2 separate regions of the Homo sapiens genome follow, and region 2 is linked to region 1. The links come from fine-mapping of genetic effects on gene expression. Tissue or cell type: naive CD4 T cells. Region 1 holds a variant in brackets; the other region holds the start of a gene. All regions are shown on one strand. Distances are between the middles of the regions. Region 1 overlaps FRRS1L (ferric chelate reductase 1 like). Region 2 holds the start of TMEM245 (transmembrane protein 245).

Region 1 (2,500 bases):
GATACCAAAATATCAAACAAAATTTGAATGCTCCTCACTCTGCCTCACTCCCCTAATCTTAACAGCCCTACCACGAGTGCAAATGCATTTAGGACAGGAAGTGGTCACTTTCAATGCAAGCCAGCTTCTGGGTGTGGCATGCCCTGCTGTTTCTCCTGCTGCCTCTAGGGCAGGAGATAAGTAGACTAATATCTATCCATGCAGTCTTACCAGTGGTACCCATTGTCTTACTACTTGGACTGGAACTCATTGAAGGCTATTCTCCTGGTGACCTCTCCAAGAATAAAGCCACCAGACCAGCCACTGCTTAGACTGCTTATCAGTCTTTTCCTACGACACACCTACAACCCATATATCCAATCCACTTGCAAATCCTGTCAGTCAGTGCTACTTTTTTTCTTTTTTTGAGACAGTCTCGCTCTGTTGCTCAGGGTGGAGTGCAATGGCGCCATCTCAGCTCACTGCAACCTCTGCCTCCTAAGCAATTCTCATGCCTCTGCCTTCTGAGTAGCTGGGATTACAGGCACCTGCCACCATACCCGGCTAAGTTTTGTGTTTTTAGTAGAGACAGGGTTTCACCATGTTGGCCAGGCTGGTCTCGAACTCCCGACCTCAAGCAATCCACCTGCTTCAGCCTCCCAAAGTGCTGGGATTATAGGTGTGAGCCACCATGCCCAGCCAGTTAGTGCTATTTTCTTTTTCTTTTTCTTTTTTTTGAGACGGAGTTTCATTCTCGTTGCCCAGGCTGGAGTACAATGGCACGATCTCAGCTCGCTGCAACCTCCGCCTCCTGGGTTCAAGCGATTCTCCCGCCTCAGCCTCTCGAGTAGCTGGGATTACAGGCGCCCGCCACCACACCCAGCTAATTTTTTGTATTTTTAGTAGAGACGGGGTTTCACTATGTTGGCCAGGCTGTTCTCGAACTCCTGACCTCAGGCGATCCACCTGCCTTGGCCTCAGTTAGTGCTACTTTCAAAACATTCAAAATCTGAGCCCTCAGCACTGTCACTGCTGGAACTTTGGTCTGAGCCGCCCTCCTCTCTCCCCTGTAGCCCCACACAAGCCTCAGAATAGGCCAGGTGAAGAGAAGGGCGGGGTGCTCTAGGCAGAAACAGCCACAAGGGCAAAAGCACAGAGGACTGAGAAAGTCTCATAGTTTGGGAACAAGCCTGGCCCAGTGAAGTGGCAAAAGAATGGGGCTCCAGAGGAAAGAGAGAAAAACGCAGCAAGGCACAGGGAAGAGCAGGGGCCAGTGATGACAGCTGCCTGTGCACCTGAGGCCCCGCCTGTGCCTGGCCACAGTCCTGTCTGAGGTCCAGAGGTTTTCTTGCCCCTGGGTACAGAGGAAGATAAAACTGTTGAAACAAATTCGTAACTTCCCTGATGTAATCCAACATGCCTTTTATAATGAAGCCTCCACAAATATTCAAAAAGAGGCCAGGCACGGAAGTGCCTGTAATCCCGGCAATTTGGGAGGCTGGGGTGGGCAGATTGCTTGAGGCCAGGAGTTCGAGACCAGCCTGGCCAACGTGTGAAAC[C/A]CCATCTCTACTAAAATTACAAAAATTAGCTGGGTGTTTTTTGTATTACAGGTGGGATTACACCTGTAATCTCAGCTATGTTGGGAGCCCGAGGCAGAAAAATCAAACTTGAACCCAGGAGGCAAAGGTTGCAGTGAGCCGACATCATGCCATTGCACTCCAGCCTGGGCAACAGAGCGAGACTCTGTCTAAAAAATAAAAAAAACCCAAAAGGACAGGGTTCGGATGAGCTTCTGGATTGCTGAACAGATGGAGGTGCCTGAAGGGTAGCACACCCAACAGGGTGTTGAAGCTCCTCACTCCCTTCCCCATGCCTTCCCCTAAGTGTCTCTTCCATCTAACTGTTCATCTGTATCCTTCAAAATAGCCTTCATAATAAATGAGTAAAGTAGGTGGGATACGGTGGCTCATGCCTGTAATCCCAGGACTCTGAGAGGTCGAGGTGGGTGGATCATCTGAGGTCAGGAGTTTGAGAACAGCCTGGCCAACACGGTGAAACCTCGTCTCTACTAAAAATACAAAAAATTAGCAGGGCGTGGTGGCAGGTGCCCGTAATCCCAGCTACTTGGGATGCTGAGGCAGGAGAATCGCTTGAACCTGGGAGGTGCAGGCTGCAATGAGCCAAGGTCACACCATTGCACTCCAGCCTGGGCAACAAGAGCGAAACTCTATCTCAACAAACAAACAAACAAACAAATAAATTAAATAAATAAATAAATAAATGAGTAAAGTGTTTCTCTGAGTTCTGTGAGCCACTCCAGGAGATTAACTGAACAGAAGAGGGTGGTGGCACCCCAGATTTATAGCTGGCTGGTCAGAAATACAGGTCACAACCTGGGGCTTGTGACGGGTGTCTGAAATGGGGGCAGTCTTGTGGTTTTGAACCCTTAACCTGTGGGATCTAATGCTATCTCCAGGTAGGTAGTGTCAGAAACAAAGTGAATTAGAGGACACCTAGCTGT
Region 2 (2,816 bases), 25 kb before region 1:
AGCTCCCTGGTTTTGTAAGAGTAAGCTCAGGTTAATCCAAGCATCACAAATCTACGTCTCTCCCCTTCACGCGGTCAGCTGCTTTACTCCAGGCGGGAGGAGGTGTGCTGTGGTACACCAGTCCCTGCACAACAAAAGCAGTTACCTAAAAGTAAAGCGTGGAGAGGAAGAAGCACAGGCAGCTCAGCACCCAGTGCCTTGCACAAATTATACAGGAATCACCTGAACTGAGAGGCAGCACCAGCCAGTGAAGCAAGCTTTGTTTTAGGACTTGTAAGAAATCTAAGACACCCAAACCCCTCTTTGTCCCTAAGTAGCCCTAGCCTGGTAAGAGGTCACCTTTCCTATCTGCAGGATGGCAAGTTGGCCTAGAATCTCTAAGGTCCCTTCCAGCTCTGACATTCAGATGCGCAGAACTGAGGGTGGCCGAAGCACCCCCGCCCTCTCCAACCAGAAGTAAAACCAAGCCCCACTGCCATGCTCTGAGGCCTCTCTCTGCAAAGCGAAATAACGATTCTCAATCCAGGGCACTGTCCCCCTAAGAGGGCCTATTAGGATTGAAACAAGGCGAAAAGCAGGGAGGCTGTTTCAAATCACGCCCGCCCCCTTTTTGGAAGAATGTCCGCCAAATTCCTGAGGTGTGAGAAGGAAAGCGGAGACGGACGGTCACTGCAGCACAGGTGTGGCCCCTCGTCGCCCCTGCACCGGGAGGAACAGCTGCAGGATTGCACCCCAGAGCGCCGGGACCACGGGCGGGGGACGGGGGCGGACTGCCGCTCACTCACCCACAGGCTGCTGAAGTAGTCCAGCCCGCGGCAGATGAGCGTGGCAGCGTGCACCAGCAGCACCTGCACGCCCAAGTAGCTGCCGAGGCAGTAGAGGCCGTACAGGAGCGGGCCGCCGGCGCCGAGCAGCAGGAGCAGGCGGCGGCGGCGCAGCGCCTGCTCGCCCAGGGCCTCGACGCCGTAGTCGACGAAGCAGAGCGGCAGGAGCAGCGCGGCCAGGACGATGGGCGTGTGCGCGCGGTGCAGGCGCTGCAGCCAGTGGCGGCCCAGGCGCGTCAGCGAGCTCTTGAAGGGGTGCAGAAAAGTGCCGCATAGCACGGCCCAGAGCAGCGGCCGCAGGAAGGCCTCCAGGATGAAGTAGACCAGCACCGCGGCGCCGCAGCACAGGCACACGAACAGCACGGCCCCGGTGTTGTAGAAGGCCTGCTTAATGGGCTTGTCGAAGCGCAGCGCCAGCGCCGCGGTCCGCGGGGTCTCCCCGCCACCGCCACTCGGCCCGACCGCGCGCGGGACCCGCGGCGCCGGCCCGGGAGAGCTCCGCAGGCTTGGCGCGTCCTTAGGGCCGCCGCCGTCGGCCATCGTTCCTCCGCCACAGCCGCCCCCGAGGGGCGGTAATGGGAGTCGGGCTAGAAACGCGGGCGGGAGGCAGGGCGGGAGGCGCGCGAGATTGTGGGAGTTGTAGTTCCCCGCTGGTTTACAGACCCACCAAGCGCTTGCAGGAAACTACAACTCCCGAAGGGGAAATGGGGAAAACGCCTCCGCCTCCTTGGTGTCCGCAAGGTCCTGCTAACAAGTTTGCAGGGTCTATATCTTCCTGGAGGGGGGGGGGGGGGGAAGCTCCTTTCACTCATTCGTTAATGTCAATTTCTCGCGAGGCGAGATCCCAAAAGGCGCCACATTCAGATATTAAAACCCAAGCTGCATACTAGAATACCGTGGGGGAGTACTTTTAAAGAACCAATGCCCCGATTCTGTTTTACTGATTTATTTAACAGATATTTTTAAAGTGTTTTCTTTGGTGTATCTGACAGGATTTTAAATAGAGATTACCATATAACAGGCCCTATTCTAAGTGGCTCACTCCTATTAACTCATTTAATCCTTAGAACAACCCTACAAAGAAGGTGTTATTATCCTCATTTTACCAACAGAAAAACTGAGACAGAGCCGTTAAGTACGCAGCCAGAGTCACACAGCTACCAAGTGGCACAGGCAAGATTCAAACTCAGGGATTCTGGCTCCAAAGGCTATACTTTTATCTACCATAGTATTTGGCCTGAGGAAAGAACTCTTGGCATTTTTCAAACGTTCCTCATAAGCCTGTAATTTGCAGCCGCTGTTGACAACTGTTTGTGCAGGTTTCGCTGTGGACGCAATCTAAACTCTTAAAAGAGTCGTAGATCAAAGTCTCAAACTGCCACTGTTTCTTTTTGAGACTTGATGTAATGTCAGTTAAGCCCCCAATCTCAAGTTTTCCTCTGTCACATGGCGATGATAATAATAATAGCTTTTGCTTTAGGGTTATTGTGTGGGGGAAGGGAAACTCTGGGGCGGTACAAGGTGCTTCTGTTCCCCTATTGGAAAAGTGCTGGGATCCAAGCCTGCTACCCATAAAATATCCCAATCAACATTTTGATTTAAAAAAAAAAAGAAAGCCTTGACTGAGTACTCAACATGTGATTGCTTCAAACCTTGCAAGTTGTCCCTTTCCTGTTTCAATAGTATTCCTATTAATTTCTACATAATTTTTGTTTCCCTTCTAAAGCAGACAAGACAGGTAACATAATCCACAGTTTGCAGATAAAGAAACTATTGCTTGATAGATTTGGAGACAAAGGGATTTAGTAAAGGAAGTAAAGGAAAAAGTAATTCCCTATCCATCTCGATTGTAAGTTTTAGGTCTCAGTATTTCAGATGGCCTTTGGAGTTTTATAACCAAAACGCAGGTTTAGTCGCTCACCACTTGCAGATTCCAATTAACAAGAGCAAGGTCTGGTATAAAGAAAGTGATGTATTCCAAAGCTAGCTTAG

The links.
Region 2: it holds the start of TMEM245, and the variant in region 1 is fine-mapped to the expression of TMEM245 in naive CD4 T cells (Schmiedel 2018, PIP 0.95).

What each region holds. Positions count from the first base shown.
Region 1 is chr9:109,143,985-109,146,484 of GRCh38, forward strand. All of the region lies in intron 3 of FRRS1L (ferric chelate reductase 1 like), which reads right to left. Among named protein-coding and RNA genes, the nearest start is that of FRRS1L, 22 kb to the right of the region's middle. The variant C/A (reference allele first, on the strand shown) is at 1,539.
Region 2 is chr9:109,118,550-109,121,365 of GRCh38, forward strand. TMEM245 (transmembrane protein 245) reads right to left here and starts at 1,398. Exons shown (of 18, transcript NM_032012.4): 1 at 786-1,398. The coding sequence starts at 1,364. RefSeq lists silencers at 728-837, 1,188-1,357, 1,498-1,547 and an enhancer at 1,028-1,077.